Linked DNA regions of Homo sapiens: region 1 is linked to region 2. A link means that fine-mapping ties the variant in region 2 to the expression of a gene that starts in the linked region. Tissue or cell type: prefrontal cortex. Region 2 holds a variant in brackets; the other region holds the start of a gene. All regions are shown on one strand. Distances are from middle to middle.

Evidence for each region. PIP is the estimated chance that this variant, and not a neighbour inherited with it, causes the effect.
Region 1: it holds the start of SIRT3, and the variant in region 2 is fine-mapped to the expression of SIRT3 in prefrontal cortex (GTEx, PIP above 0.99).

What each region holds. Positions count from the first base shown.
Region 1 is chr11:232,829-240,828 of GRCh38, forward strand. SIRT3 (sirtuin 3) reads right to left here and starts at 3,514. Exons shown (of 7, transcript NM_012239.6): 1 at 3,220-3,514; 2 at 515-706; 3 at 155-387. The coding sequence starts at 3,500. PSMD13 (proteasome 26S subunit, non-ATPase 13) reads left to right here and starts at 4,148. Exons shown (of 13, transcript NM_002817.4): 1 at 4,148-4,316; 2 at 6,170-6,248. The coding sequence starts at 4,222. RefSeq lists a silencer at 3,580-3,659 and enhancers at 3,810-3,999, 4,160-4,399.
Region 2 is chr11:207,202-215,201 of GRCh38, forward strand. BET1L (Bet1 golgi vesicular membrane trafficking protein like) reads right to left here and starts at 198. Exons shown (of 4, transcript NM_001098787.2): 1 at 102-198. The coding sequence starts at 120. It overlaps RIC8A (RIC8 guanine nucleotide exchange factor A), which reads left to right and starts at 507. Exons shown (of 10, transcript NM_001286134.2): 1 at 507-1,737; 2 at 2,070-2,117; 3 at 2,206-2,799; 4 at 3,370-3,461; 5 at 3,998-4,148; 6 at 5,215-5,310; 7 at 5,414-5,558; 8 at 5,636-5,780; 9 at 6,098-6,217; 10 at 7,029-7,912. The coding sequence starts at 1,654. The coding sequence ends at 7,149. It overlaps SIRT3 (sirtuin 3), which reads right to left. Exons shown (of 7, transcript NM_012239.6): 7 at 7,829-8,000. It overlaps MIR6743 (microRNA 6743), which reads left to right and starts at 2,135; the gene lies at 2,135-2,205. RefSeq lists silencers at 40-159, 1,221-1,419, 1,420-1,709, 1,780-1,889 and enhancers at 472-1,093, 949-1,118, 1,094-1,713, 1,788-2,375. The variant C/T (reference allele first, on the strand shown) is at 3,814.

The DNA of each region.
Region 1 (8,000 bases), 26 kb after region 2:
AAGGAAGAAGCATAAGCGATAGGTTTTGGCCGTCCCCAGAAACAGGCACCCGAGCATCCCCTGTGAGAAACAGGCACCCGAGCCTCCCTGGGAGAAACAGGCACCCGAGCCTCCGTGGGAGAAAAAGAATGTGTGCGACTCACAGAGGGCTCACCTCTCTCAAGCCCATCGATGTTCTGCGTGTAGAGCCGCAGAAGCAGCCCCTTGTCATGAAGCAGCCGGAGAAAGTAGTGAGTGACGTTGGGCTTGTAGTTTCCAGGGTACAGCTCCTTGGCCAAAGTGAAAAAGGGCTTGGGGTTGTGAAAGAAGAATGGGAGTTCAAAAATGGCCTCGGGGTACGGGAGATCGTACTGCTGGAGGTTGCTGTACAGGCCACTCCCCGGCGATCTGCAGGGAGAGAAGAAAGGCTCTGAGGCCTTTGGAAGAGGACAGGGAAGTGGAATAAACTGGGCAGTGGGGAGGGCAGGAGTCAGGGGAGGGGAGCGCAGAAGGCAGGTGGGACTGTGGGCAGTACCTGAAGTCTGGAATGCCACTGGGTGTGCTGATGCCGGCCCCCACCATGACCACCACCCTCTGGCAGGCTCTGGCCCGAATCAGCTCAGCTACATCCTGCAGGGAAAGCTTCCCCTTGTCACTGCTGCCTCCACTTCCAACAACACTTGAAGCACCCACAGAAAAAGATATGGACCTTCTTCCACCTTTAATACTGACAGAAAAAAACACAGCAGCAAAGGAAACAGATAGCAACCAATCTCAGGATAGCAAGAACGAGCATGGCTCTGCCCTCTGCACCACCGCCACCCTCGAGAATGAGCATGTGTGTCTCCCCAGGCCTCTCAAAATAATCACCTTTCTTAGACGACTATTGGGGTACAACAAAAAGCAGTCATAAATCAGAAATCAAGACTTACTTGGGAGCAAAAAATTCAGGTTAATGGGAACTGTGCTCATTTCATAATTCAGTACACTCAGTAGGCACTCAACTCTGACTGACTGCAAACCTCCAAAGGGGTCTCCTAATGAAAACTGGTTAAGGAGTCAAGAAGCAAAGAGGGAAAACCCTGGTTCTAAAACCATCTCACCACCTATTAAGCGCCCCACTTCACACAGCATTTCAGACATCTATTCACTTAAGGTCGTTCCCCAAACAGCTACTGTGCTCCTACTAAACACGAACTGTTAAGAGAAGCACAAAAGGAATGAAAGTTATTATTGCTGTTGAGTGCCTGCTGAGGGCAAGGTATCACGAAGGGTGCCTGAGTACATTCCTCATTTACGTAAATAAAATGTTTGTGAGTCACTGAAAAACACATAAACGGCGTTTTACCAAATGTCTGGAACATACGTAAGATGTATGGCTTAAAGTACATGCTGCATGGTGTGAAATTCACTGGGAGTGGGGGACCCTGAGGGGCAGGCATGGGTGCAACCTGGGAGGGACACTGTGCAAAGGACACAAACAACAAATTCAGAGAGCTCAAAAATCCAAAGCCAAACTGGAGGAAGCCCATGCAATGGACTACTCCTCACACGCAGCCCTATGCCTCCTGCTTTAGGGCCAGTGGTAGCAAGGATTTTTGTTTTGTTTTGTTTTGTTTTGTTTTGAGACGGAGTCTCGCTCTGTTGCCCAGGCTGGAGTGCAGTGTCGCGATCTCGGCTCACTGCAAGCTCCGCCTCCCAGGTTCACGCCATTCTCCTGCCTCAGCCTCCCGAGTAGCTGGGACTACAGGCACCCGCCACCACGCCTGGCTAATTTCCTTGTATTTTTAGTAAAGACGGGGTTTCACTGTGTTAGCCAGGATGGTCTCGATCTCCTGACCTCGTGATCCGCCCGTCTCGGCCTTCCAAAGTGCTGGAATTACAGGCGTGAGCCACCGCGCCCGGCCGCAAGGATTTGTTTTAACAGTTTTGCAGAGTATCACAGATATTAGAATGCGCTCCACGTGTTTGTAGGTCCTGGTCCCTGCTCCATCCATAGCACCTAGAACAGAGTCTGGCACAGAATAAGAGCTCAGTCAGGGCTTCTTGGATGAACGACTGACTCTTCGGGATCTTTGTTTTTTTTTGAGACGGAGTTTTTGCTCTTTCGCCCGGGCTGGAGTGCAATGGTGCCATCTCGGCTCACTGCAACCTCTGCCTTCCGGGTTCAAGTGATTCTCCTGCCTCCGCCTCCTGAGTAGCTAGGATTACAGGCGCCCGCCACCACGCCCGGCTAATTTTTGTAATTTCAGTAGAAATGGGGTTTCACCATGTTGGCCCAGCTGGTCTCGAACTCCTGACCTCGTTATCCACCCGTCTCATCCTCCCAAAGTGCTGGGATTACAGGCGTGAGCTACCGCGCCCGGCCAACTCTTCAGGATCTATTAAACTTTTTTCTTTTTTTTTTCCCACAGGTAGATAAGAGTCTTGCTCTGTCACCCAGGCTGGAGTGCAGTGGCTCAATCATAGCTCACTGCAGCCTTGAACTCCTGGACTCAAGGGATCCTCTTGCCTTAGTCTCAGGAGTAACTGGGACAACAGGCTTGCGCCACCATGCCCGGCTAATTTTTAAATTTTTGGTAGAGATGGGGGTCTCGTTATGTTGCCCAGGCTGCTCTTGAACTCCTGGCCTCGAGCGATCCCCGTCTCAGCCTCCGAAAGTGCTGGTATTACAAGTGTGAGCTACCACTTCGAGACTCACTTTTCACCAACATTTTCAGCAGTTGTGTCAGACAGCAAGTCAATGTGCCATTATTTACTTAAATATTCATCCATTATAGGGCATCTGATACCTAACAACCATGGACCTTAAGATTTTTTCCTATGTAGCCTCAGTTCTTAGATGCAATTACTATGGAGACGGGTACGATCACATGCCAGTGGGAGTATTAACCGCACAACATTTATGAGGGATCATTAAAGCGTTAAATGCATATACTTTTGGACCTAGCAATCCCAGTACTAGGAATTTATGCAAACAGTGAGGTGCCAACAAGGTTATTCACCACAGCATGATGCACAATAACTAAAGGTTAGAACGTATTTCAATGAGGGAATGGTGAAATAAACGACAAAACCCCCATAAGTGACGTCCACAGATCAGCATAAAGACGGAGGCCCCGGTGTTGGAACGCACGTAAACTCCCAGACATGCCGCAAAGGAAACACGGCAAGGTGAGAAAGAGTGGGCGAGGTGTCGACAACGAACACGCAAGAAGTGCTTGTCCTTGCCCAAAATACCTCGAAAAGAAGAAACTGGGAGCTGCTGCCCTCGGCTGCCTCCGGAATGCCCTGGGCACCTCGGGTCTGGGAGGCCTCTGCAAGGGGCGCGCCGGGTCCAAGGGCTCACCGCGGGCCCCATGGCTGCCTCTCAGCCCCGCACTCACATCGTCCCTGCCGCCAAGCACCAGCCGACAGCCGCAGGCCTGAAACGGCCCCACGCCTCCCCCGGCCTCGACCCGTTCAACTACCCGGCCCCACAGCCGGAGGGCTGCCGCGGCGCGCCAACCCCAGAACGCCATGTTCCGCGCAGTCCAAGGAGTCCTCCGGACTCGCCCCGCCCCCGGCGCCCCGGCCCCGCCTCCGCCTCCCACCCCCGCCCCCGGCGCCCCAGCCCCGCCTCCGCCTACCGCCCCCGCCCCCGGCGCCCCGGTCCCGCCTCCGCGCCCCGCCCCCGCCTCCTTGCCGACGCCTCCGGCGCGCCCAGGTAGACGTAGAGGCGAGTAGAGGAAGTTCCCTAGTCTGGTGTCTCATCTCTCGCCCCGGAGGTCAAACCTGGAGCCAGCATTTCTGTACCCTGCGCTCACACCTTTTTCAACCCGGATGGCGGTGATAGTTAATACTTTCTGAGCGCTTTTACTATGGTCAGGCATTATATTTACACCTAATCCTCGCAAAACACTACTGGGAAGATCCTCATTTGACAGGAGCAATTCCGGGTCACAAAGGCTGACACCACAAAGCTAGTCCGTAGCGGGTTCGACCACAGGCGCCCACACTCTTTGACGCCTCAATGGCACAGCCAAGTGCGCGGGAAGTGGGCTGCAAACGCCGGAGAGTTTTGTCCGGAGCGCAGAGACGCGCTGTAACCGAGCAACCAGCGGGGCCCGCCCCCGGCCTGCTACGGCGCTCCCAGCCTGCCCCGCGCCGCTCGGCGCCGGAAGTGAGTGAGCATTTCCGGCAGCCATCCCCGCGGTGCTGACATCCCGGTTGTTCTTCTGTGCCGGGGGTCTTCCTGCTGTCATGAAGGACGTACCGGGCTTCCTACAGCAGAGCCAGAACTCCGGGCCCGGGCAGCCCGCTGTGTGGCACCGTCTGGAGGAGCTCTACACGAAGAAGTGAGCGCCGAGCAGACGGGCCCTGGGCCCCGGCGATAGAGGGAGACGGAGGGGGCAGGCGGGCGGAGGAGCGGACCCTTGATGGGCTGAGGGCGCCCAGACCCAAGTTGGGGGGAAACGGGGACGTGTAGCGACCGGCTGTGCCGGCAAGGTTTGCTGAGGAACCTTGAGTGGCAGGGTCGAGGAATAAGAGGGATGACAGACCACGAGGGCCAAGAGCTGTAGCCAGGATGTTTCGGTCTGAGATTCACTGCTTCCTTAACGGGGGACTGAGACTGAGGCTTCTGAACTCCTACCTCGGGTCTTACTAAAACGGTTCAGGAGTAGCCTTTGATTTTAGCTCTTGATTCCATCTAACAAGCAAACACACTTTCAGGGCCACCACCCACTTTGGGAAACATGTTGGTGATTCGTGCTTAGCCTTGTCATAGTGTAACTGTATCTACAGTTATCTTTCTCATGGTCTGGAGTTGATAAACCAGAGGCTAGTACAGCTTTGCTGTTTTCCCTATTCATTCTGCAGCTGGTTGCACGGGGTGCAACCACTTCCGCCGTCCCATTGTCTTTACCTTCCATTGTATTTCTCATGGGCTTTCTGCCCCTAGAAAGATCTTAAAGTTTAGGTTTGTTTAGAAACAGGATGAATTGCAGAGCAATTAAATTCTTGCTAAGCACTAACCTCCTTTTAATATGAGTAGAATAAATTGCTGGCATTGGGCTGGAGCTATTCCATAGAAAATACATCTCCTGTAGTAACCTCCCTGTTAACCCTAGCATTTAATATAATACCTTTCACATAGATGTTCCATACATGTTTTGATGATGTTTAGCATTCAGCAGCCTTCTGCTATTAGCAGTTTTTGAGAGCAAATTAATGTTTGGCAAATAATGGTTTGTGTTGGATAGCACTTGGTAATTTTCAAAGCATTTTATCTGCGTTATTAAATATTAGCCTTTGGGTTTTGGATGAAGCGCTATGTCACTGTCCCTGAGGTTTTAAATATTAGCTTATTTAATCCTTTATTCATCCTTTTCACAGAGGAGGAAACTGAAGCTCATTTTAATTGCCTTCCCTGAGATACTCAGCTAATAGGTAGAAGAGCCAGCATCTCAAGTTAGATATGTATGATTCCAAAGTTCTCGTTTCCAGTGAAACCTCACAATAACCCTTTGAGTTAATCTAGATTAATGTTCTCCATTTCATACCTGGGAAAACTGAGTCTTAGAGAAGTTAAGTGATCTCAAAGTGACATAGCCATTCAATAGCAGAGCCAGGAAAAGAACTCAGGTTTATCACATCTGCTTTAGCATTCTTTCTGCTACACCGTAGAGACTGGTTAGTATGGATTTAGTATCCCTTATCAGAAATGCATTGGGGCGGCCGGGCGCAGTGGCTCATGCCTGTAATCCCTGCTACTCGGGAGGCTGAGGCAGGAGAATCACTTGATCCTGGGAGGCAGAGGTTGCAGTGAGCCGAGATGGCGCCACTGCACTACAGCCTGGGCAACAGAGTCAGACTCTGTCTCAAAAAAGAAAGAAAGAAATGCATTGGGGCAAAAGTTTTTTTGGATTTAGTATTTTTTCAAATTTTGAAATATTTGCGATATATACTTACCCGTTCAGTATCCATAAATCAAAAATCTGAAATCTGAGATGCTCCAGTGGTCATTTCCTTTGAGCCCTATGTTGGTGCTCAAAAAGTTTTGGATTTTGGAGCATTTTGAATTTTGGAGTTTTGGAGTTTTGGATTAGAGATACCCAACCTGTATTTGTGACTTGATAGAATCATCAAGGCTGGAGGTGTCTGTGACTGGATATTAGGTTAGAGGTCTTAAGGGCTGTATGTTTTTCAGGTTGTGGCATCAGCTGACACTTCAGGTGCTTGATTTTGTGCAGGATCCGTGCTTTGCCCAAGGAGATGGTCTCATTAAGGTAAATAATTTGCTATACCAGATTAGATTATATGAATGTGCTCAAGGACTTTTGAAAATAAGATAGGCTTTATGCTAATAATAATAATAAGCTCCAATATTCAGCAGTCACTTTACGTCAGGTACTGGTCTGAGCGCTTCACATATCCTTCATGACAACGCTGGTCAGTAGATACTACTATCTCACTTTTTTGATGTAGAAGCAAACATAAGACTTTAAGTAACTTACCATAGATCACTGCTGATAAGTGGCAGAAGAGGATTCAAACACTGACATTCTGGCTTTTTTTGAAATTCTAGCATAAAGTATTATCTTACAACATGCCTAAGTATCTTAGTTCATAGGCTTCTTTTTAGTACTCTAGTTTTAGAAACAAAGTTCAAACCCAGTTAGAGGGTGGAGTAAGGTATGAGGAAGATTACTATCTGTGGGAATCTTAGATAACTTCCATCACTCCCCTTCTTTAAGCCGCACTGCTTGCTTGCCCAGACACTTCTGTCCTGGGTAGTGTGGAAAATAAAACACCTTTTGTACTTCGGTTGAGGGTAGGTGGATTGGAGGGAGAGTCCTGTATAGTGTCATGCTGCCTCTGTAATAGAGGACTTTTAGAATTTTTTCAGCAGTAGACAAATACGCACCTTCTTTCCCAGCCTTCCCCAGATCCCCTGACACATCCCCACGAATTTGCTCACTGGTAGCCTCCTCTTTGAAGTTTTTCCTGACATCTTACTCTATGATGGCTTTCTCTGATTCTGAATGAATCAGAGATTCATACCAGCATTGCAACTGATAGCTTATAATTACATTTTGAGTCATTTCTCCTGAATACATTACTTTTATATGCTCGCAATAGAGCTTACCACCTTGCTACCCCACCACCTGGGCTTGTAAGATTTTCTTGTGGTTTATAGCCATCAATTTGACATTTTACTATTCAGAGGAACTTACAATCATCTGTAAGCCTGGAGATTTTGCTGAACATTCAGTCTTCTGGATTATGTGGGAAAATGATAAATGAGACCTGCTTTTTTTTTTTTTTTTTTTTTTTTTTTGACGGAGTTTCGCTCTTGTTGCCCGGGCTGGAGTGCAATGGTGCGATCTTGGCTCACTGCAACTTCCACCTCCCGAGTTCAAGCGATTCTTCTGCCTCAGCGTCCCAAGTAGCTGGGATTACAGGTGCCCACCACCACAGCCAGCTGATTTTTGTATTTCTTAGTAGAGATGGGGTTTCACCAGTGTTGGCCAGGCTGGTCTCAGACTCCTGACCTCAGGTGATCTGCCTGCCTTGGCCTCCCAGAGTGCTGGGATTATAGGCAGGAGCCACTGTGCCTGGCCTGAGACCTGTCTTAATACTTGTTCCCTAAGGTTCTAAATCATCACGATAGATGATTCATAATTGTTTATCTCTGTCCTTTGGTTTCTTATCTTTAAATCACTTTTCTACACATGACAAAATATTTCCTCAACCTCATGGTAAGGTGATGTTTATTTAGGTTGGCAGATCTGAGTTTACTTTTCCCATAGACAGAATAAACCTTTAAAATTTGTTGGGATCCAGCTAGCATAAGTGTAAAATGGATAGTATTTTTGAATTTATAGTCACCAGAAGTAATTTTGACTTTCTGGACTTAGTGGGCTTCTTTTTTAAGGTAATTTTTTAGATTAATACATGTCAGGAAAGTTCAAACATTTCCTTCTAATAAGGAAGATATCTTTGAAATAGTCTTTTGTAATAAAAATGCCATTTTATTT
Region 2 (8,000 bases):
TCACCCCAGCTGGGCCAGAGGCAGGCGCACGCGGCTCTACAGGCAGCGGCGTCGGTTTCGGCCCGGCCCTGCCCCCAACGGCTCCGCTCTCCCGCGCTCACCCCGAGCCCAGTCCGCCATCGTGCCCTGCCCCGGCTCCTCGACGCGGACACCGACGCGGCCACAGCCGCCTCAGACGTGGCGCAGTCGCGGGGAAAGAGCTTCCGGCCCCGCCCCCAGCTAGCGATGGCCCCGCCTCCGCACCGACCACGCCCCTAGATAGCCCAGCCCCTTCCGCTTCGGGCTCGCTGACTTCCGGCTTAGGGCCGAGGGTGGGGAACTGCCGGGCGCGGAAGCGATGGGCATATCTGTGGCTTATTTTCAGCACTGTCGCGCAGACAGTGGCGCGATCTCAGCTCACTGCAGCCCCCGCCTGCCGGGCTCCCAAGGTGCTGGGATTACAGCAGCACCGCGGATGTGACGTTTGGTGTTCCTGTGAACGTGGGGCGGGGCGGGGCCGTTTGCTTGCTCAGTGCCTAGACGATGGTGGTGGAAAGACGCTTCTGTGGGTTAGGTCCTAACGGTTAGGAAGGATTCACAGGCGGGTCATGAGGAAGGAGCAGACCCCTCGGGCAGAAGCCCGCGAGGAGCACTGGGTGTGGTGGGGGCAGGGGTGCCTCCTCTGTCAAGTGGAGATCGGCGCCTCGCTCGTGCCTGCGAGTGCGCGCCGCGTCGAATACAGCCGTACAGAACGCACTACAGGAAAGTGAAGCCGGGAGAGAGACTGGGAGGCGGCGCGGGGACTGGGGGCCGTAGACGCCTTTGCTCCCGGGCACTTGTTAGAAGAGCGAGTGGATCGCGCTTCCTGTGCGTCACTGAATCCTCATGACGGCCACTGAAACGGACACGCAGGATCTTTGCTTTTCAAGAGGGAACTGAGTCCAGGCCAGACTGGGTTGCTCCCCTTTCTCTCGGCCCCTCCACCTTTGCAAGTGCTGCTCCTTCTGCCTGGAGTGGCTCCTCCAGTCTTTTCCCGGCTCACTTCCCACCGTCCGGTGTCAGCAAAAACAGCACTTCCTCACAGCCCGTTGCAGCCCAGCAGTCGCCTTTTGCTTCTTTTGAAGCACAGCCCTGTGACCGCCTCGTGTCCTTTTGTTTTTCCTTGTCCCCCTTCCCCTCTGGAACATAAGCTCCACAAAGGCAGGGACCTGGGAATCCCGTTCGCCTGCATTCCCCAGCAAACGCCTAACGAACCCAATGGCCCAGGACTGAAAATTCCTTTCCACTTCGGCTTTCCCCTCTACATCCCATCGGTTCTGTGGAGCTCGAGGGGCGTCACTGTGTGTGTGGCAGGGCACGGTGGGGGCTGAGATCGTTTCCTGTTGGAACTTCTGGCCCAAGAAGCGCGGGTCACAAGGAGAGGGGTCAGTTCGGTTCAGAGCGACTCAGCCCCTCGACTCGGGTCTTAAAACCTCCGAGCCGCCAGTTCTGCCTCAGGCCGCGCCCCCTTAAAGCGCCACCAGACGCTGCGCCCCGTTAAAGCGCCACCAGACGCCGCGCCCCGTCCCGGCCTCCCCCGCGCGCTGGCGCGGGGCTTTCTGGGCCAGGGCGGGGCCGGCGAACTGCGGCCCGGAACGGCTGAGGAAGGGCCCGTCCCGCCTTCCCCGGCGCGCCATGGAGCCCCGGGCGGTTGCAGAAGCCGTGGAGACGGGTGAGGAGGATGTGATTATGGAAGCTCTGCGGTCATACAACCAGGAGGTAAGCGGCCGCCTGAGGCCGGGGGGCGGGCACGGAGGGGGTGGGGCAGGGTCGTGCGCGGGTAGCAGGGAGGGCGTGGGTGAGGCAGAGGCTGTGTCAGCAAGCGTAGGGGACGCGGCGGGGTGCGGGGGGCAGGTCTGGGATGCAGTGTTGCGGGGAGAGTGGGGGTGCACCCGTTGGGTGGCAGGCGTGTAGGGATGGGGGCGAGTGCCGACCCTGCCATCCGTTCTGAGCAGTGGCTGCTGCCTGAGTTAGAGGCCAATAGGCCGCCCGCATCAGCGGACGCGGATCCTACCCCTCTGTGGATTTGAATTCACTAGTTCTCTCTGCAGCACTCCCAGAGCTTCACGTTTGATGATGCCCAACAGGAGGACCGGAAGGTGGGTGCTGGCCCAAGGGGTAAAGGGGCAGGGACGGGTGGCCCCAGGAAGAAGGGCCTGGTGGAGCCGCTCTTCTCCCTGCCCACAGAGACTGGCGGAGCTGCTGGTCTCCGTCCTGGAACAGGGCTTGCCACCCTCCCACCGTGTCATCTGGCTGCAGAGTGTCCGAATCCTGTCCCGGGACCGCAACTGCCTGGACCCGTTCACCAGCCGCCAGAGCCTGCAGGCACTAGCCTGCTATGCTGACATCTCTGTCTCTGAGGGGTCCGTCCCAGAGTCCGCAGACATGGATGTTGTACTGGAGTCCCTCAAGTGCCTGTGCAACCTCGTGCTCAGCAGCCCTGTGGCACAGATGCTGGCAGCAGAGGCCCGCCTAGTGGTGAAGCTCACAGAGCGTGTGGGGCTGTACCGTGAGAGGAGCTTCCCCCACGATGTCCAGTTCTTTGACTTGCGGCTCCTCTTCCTGCTAACGGCACTCCGCACCGATGTGCGCCAGCAGCTGTTTCAGGAGCTGAAAGGAGTGCGCCTGCTAACTGACACACTGGAGCTGACGCTGGGGGTGACTCCTGAAGGGAACCCCCCACCCACGCTCCTTCCTTCCCAAGAGACTGAGCGGGCCATGGAGATCCTCAAAGTGCTCTTCAACATCACCCTGGACTCCATCAAGGGGGAGGTGGACGAGGTGAGCACTGACCTTAACCCATGGATGGGTCTCAACTCAGCTCCAACATTTCCTGGACCTGCTTCCTACTGGGTACCTTCAGGTTTCTGGGTGTCAGACATGGAGAGGACAGGACCTCCCAGCCTGTTGGGACAAGGCCAAGGAGATGCCAGTTCTGGGCTGGGACCTCAGGAAAGGCTTCTGAGGGAAGTAGAGGCCCCTTCTGGCTCTTGCTGCCTGGCAGGAGGGCTGTGTGGTGTCTGGGGAGACTGTAAGAGATCCTCCACCATGAGGCTGTGAGTGGGGCTGAGACAGAGTGTGACTTCATCCCTAAGGTATGTGTTAGCATTCCTAATCAGGGAAGTGCTCTTAGAAGAATACTCATGGAGTTTTTAGGAAGACAGCAGTGGTCATCTTTTGCCCCCAGCACTACCCAGAGTCACCTAGGAAGACCCCAGGGGACCAGGTATGCAGTACAGGAGGTGCACAGTCATTGCCACACAGTCCTGGAGTGCAACAGACAGTGGAGCCTCAGCAGGCAGCAGTGGGATGAGTGGGGCTCCTCACAGGAACCCTTCTTTCTTTGGTCAGGAAGACGCTGCCCTTTACCGACACCTGGGGACCCTTCTCCGGCACTGTGTGATGATCGCTACTGCTGGAGACCGCACAGAGGAGTTCCACGGGTGAGAATGGGGCTTTTTCTGGGAGGGAAGTGTGCCCACATGTCTAGATGGTCGTCCTCAACCCCGGCTCTGAACCAGAACCACCTGAGAGCCCAGGCCCCACCCTAGAGAGTCTGACGTTGTCTGGGTGAGTGAGACTGGACATAGCCATGAATTTGGGGGCAGGAATGTGCCAACTGGGCCTTGGGTAGTGGCAACAGTATGGTACTTACTAGGGCACATTGGTTCCTTGTCCCCGTTTTTGGTCTACCTGCCCCTAGGCTGGTCTGGGTTTCCAGAGATGGTCTGGCGCTTTGGCTCAGACAGGGTCGGGGAGGCAGTGTGTCTCAGTGCCCCCACTTCCCCAGGGGAC[C/T]CCACTGTACAGCTGAGTGGCAGTGCCTCTCAGATCAGTCCCTGCCCTTGGCTTTGGTCCCTAGCGCTGCCCCTTTGGGACTCAGATGCCAGCTCATGTAATGTGTGGTTCAGCGGAGTCACAAAGATTGCACCTGTGCTCAGGGATTAGCCCTGTTGAAACCCCTACCTCCATCTGTCCCCAGCCACGCAGTGAACCTCCTGGGGAACTTGCCCCTCAAGTGTCTGGATGTTCTCCTCACCCTGGAGCCACATGGAGACTCCACGGAGTTCATGGGAGTGAATATGGATGTGATTCGTGCCCTCCTCATCTTCCTAGAGAAGCGTTTGCACAAGGTAGGCTGGGGATGGCTGTGCAGGCTCCCCCAGTGGCTCTGGCACTGGTTCTCCTGCACAGATGTGGTCAGTGCTTCCACACTGTCCACACTGGTACGTGGAGATTGTCTTGGTGGTGTGATATGGGCGACTCTTCCGGTTGTTCTGTGGTCCAGCCTGGCAAGAAGCCAGACCCTTCCTCCATGAGAAGCATGTGGACACCTTCCACACACTTGAAGGTTTCACTTCTTAAATCTTTGGGGATCTTTACTGAGTGGTCCAGAGAAGCCCCCCAGTCCCTACTTTTAAGTCTTAAACACAGGCAGCCCTTGATTACAAGCATAGTTGTCCCTCAGCATCCTGAGGAGACCCATAGGAACCTCAGATCAAAGCTTCCTTCTGATTGCTGTGACTGCACTACAGGGCATCTGGACAGCTGGGGCTCTAACCATCTTCCAGGAGCTTGCAGAAAGCAGGCTGGAGTACAATAAACCGAGATTTAGTAGACCTCCTGGGAATCTACCTGCCTAAGCAAGGGACACACAAGGTGCCTGCGAGCCAGTCAGGATAGGGAGCTGGCACTGGACACACAGCTAGGGGGTTGTCTGTGCCCGTCGCTGCCACTGCTGGTGCTGGGGTCCAGGCACATTATGCTAGGAGGGTCAAGAACTCCCTGCTCTGTCCACGAAGTACACAGAGCGGGGATTCGGTTCTCGTTTCTTTTTGCCACCAACATCTGAGGGCAATGTGTGTGCGAGTCTAAAGCTTTAATTGCTTTGTGTTTTCTTCCCAGCTCTGGTTTATAGTTGAAGTAATTAGACTTAAAGCAGTTATTTCTCCCAAGTCACAAAGCTTACGAGTACCTCTGAGTTACGCTCTATCCCTGTCCTTTTCAAAAGTGACACAGACACCCACCACCCACTCTTGGCCTTCTGCTGACTAACTGCAGAGGGGCCTCTTCCCAAACCTCTGCCGCCAGGACCAGCTGTTGTGTATGTTGGTGGGAAGGGGTGGTGGGGAGGTGTAACTCTGTGCCAGTCACAAGTTAGGCAGGGGCATAGCCCCAGTGACAGAGAATCCTCTACAGACACACAGGCTGAAGGAGAGTGTAGCTCCCGTGCTGAGCGTGCTGACTGAATGTGCCCGGATGCACCGCCCAGCCAGGAAGTTCCTGAAGGCCCAGGTATAAGGCTGAGGAGCTGGTGCTCCTGGGGGATGTGGTTTCGGCCCTGATCACAGACCCTTGGCTGCTCTAAGCCCAAGCTTAGGGATGGCCACCTCCCCAGGTGCTGCCCCCTCTGCGGGATGTGAGGACACGGCCTGAGGTTGGGGAGATGCTGCGGAACAAGCTTGTCCGCCTCATGACACACCTGGACACAGATGTGAAGAGGGTGGCTGCCGAGTTCTTGTTTGTCCTGTGCTCTGAGAGTGGTGAGTTATGGAGACCCAGGTCCCAGCCCACCCCACCTCAGCCAGGCTTGCACACTGACCTCTGCCTTGCCCCTCAGTGCCCCGATTCATCAAGTACACAGGCTATGGGAATGCTGCTGGCCTTCTGGCTGCCAGGGGCCTCATGGCAGGAGGCCGGCCCGAGGGCCAGTACTCAGAGGATGAGGACACAGACACAGATGAGTACAAGGAAGCCAAAGCCAGGTGTGTACCCCCAACACACCCTCGGGTCTCCACTCACAGCCCCATAGTCCCTGCTTCCACACCCATGTGGACCCCTGTAGGGTGGGACAGGATGACAAATGGGCAAGAGCTTCCAGAATCAAGCACCTGTTCCTAAGTGCTATCTGGGATACCAGAAGGTGGCAGATGGCAGGAGCTGGTTACCTGTGCCGCTTCTGGAGGGAGGCCTCTTCCTGCAGTTGCCTTGCCCACCTCACCCCACTGGGAAAATAGGTGGCTTGCCTCCTGTCCTGGAGAGTCACTAATGCATTCCCCACATTCCACCCACTGGGAAACAGCATAAACCCTGTGACCGGGAGGGTGGAGGAGAAGCCGCCTAACCCTATGGAGGGCATGACAGAGGAGCAGAAGGAGCACGAGGCCATGAAGCTGGTGACCATGTTTGACAAGCTCTCCAGGTGTGTGGCATGAGGAGGAGGGGCCTGCAGCTGGGAGAAGGGAGAGCTGACCCACATCCTGTCTTGTGAGCCCCAGGAGGTAGGATCAGAGGAGAGCTTAGGATCCTGGTATTAGGTTGCATTGCTCACGTTTGAAATCACTTGCCCTGGAGGAAATCCCCCAGGGGATGGGTATATTGAGATCAGTATTGTGCCCCTTTTACAGATGATAACTGAGGCCCAGAGAAATTAAGAGACTGTCTAAGGCCGGGCGTGGTAGCTCACGCCTATAATCCCAGCACTTTGGGAGACTGAGGCAGGTAGATCACAAGGTCAGGAGATCGAGACCATCCTGGCCAACATGGTGAAACCCCATCTCTGCTAAAATACAAAAAAAAAGTTAGCTGGGCGTGGTGGTGGGCGCCTGTAGTCCCAGCTGCTCGGGAGGTTGAGGCAGGGGAATCACTTGAACCCAGGAGGCAGAGCTTGCAGTGAGCTGACATTGTGCCACCGCACTCCAGCCTGGCAACAGAGTGAGACTTCGTCTCAAAAAAAAAAAAGAGACTAATGTCGCCAGATTTATTGGAGATGGCCCAGTGTCCAAATTAAGAGCCTGCTTAAGGCCAATTTAGATGTTTAAAATAGGAAACTGCTTAAAGCCAGGAGGCAGCAGTTAGGGTTTGGGCCCAGTTAACAGAAGGTCCAACCAGGCTTCCCCAGTAAATGGGAGCAGCCTACTTGGTAGAGAGGAAGGTAGCAGCCACGGGTGAGTAGGACCCCTGCCTGGCCAACTGGGCCCCTTCCCCAGCCCCACTGCACCTTTCCCCAACAGGAACAGAGTCATCCAGCCAATGGGGATGAGTCCCCGGGGTCATCTTACGTCCCTGCAGGATGCCATGTGCGAGACTATGGAGCAGCAGCTCTCCTCGGACCCTGACTCGGACCCTGACTGAGGATGGCAGCTCTTCTGCTCCCCCATCAGGACTGGTGCTGCTTCCAGAGACTTCCTTGGGGTTGCAACCTGGGGAAGCCACATCCCACTGGATCCACACCCGCCCCCACTTCTCCATCTTAGAAACCCCTTCTCTTGACTCCCGTTCTGTTCATGATTTGCCTCTGGTCCAGTTTCTCATCTCTGGACTGCAACGGTCTTCTTGTGCTAGAACTCAGGCTCAGCCTCGAATTCCACAGACGAAGTACTTTCTTTTGTCTGCGCCAAGAGGAATGTGTTCAGAAGCTGCTGCCTGAGGGCAGGGCCTACCTGGGCACACAGAAGAGCATATGGGAGGGCAGGGGTTTGGGTGTGGGTGCACACAAAGCAAGCACCATCTGGGATTGGCACACTGGCAGAGCCAGTGTGTTGGGGTATGTGCTGCACTTCCCAGGGAGAAAACCTGTCAGAACTTTCCATACGAGTATATCAGAACACACCCTTCCAAGGTATGTATGCTCTGTTGTTCCTGTCCTGTCTTCACTGAGCGCAGGGCTGGAGGCCTCTTAGACATTCTCCTTGGTCCTCGTTCAGCTGCCCACTGTAGTATCCACAGTGCCCGAGTTCTCGCTGGTTTTGGCAATTAAACCTCCTTCCTACTGGTTTAGACTACACTTACAACAAGGAAAATGCCCCTCGTGTGACCATAGATTGAGATTTATACCACATACCACACATAGCCACAGAAACATCATCTTGAAATAAAGAAGAGTTTTGGACAAAAATGTATGTGTAAATTATCAAATAAAGGGGCCAGGCACAGTGGCTCATGCCTGTAATCCCAGCACTTTGGGAGGCCGAGGTGGGTGGATC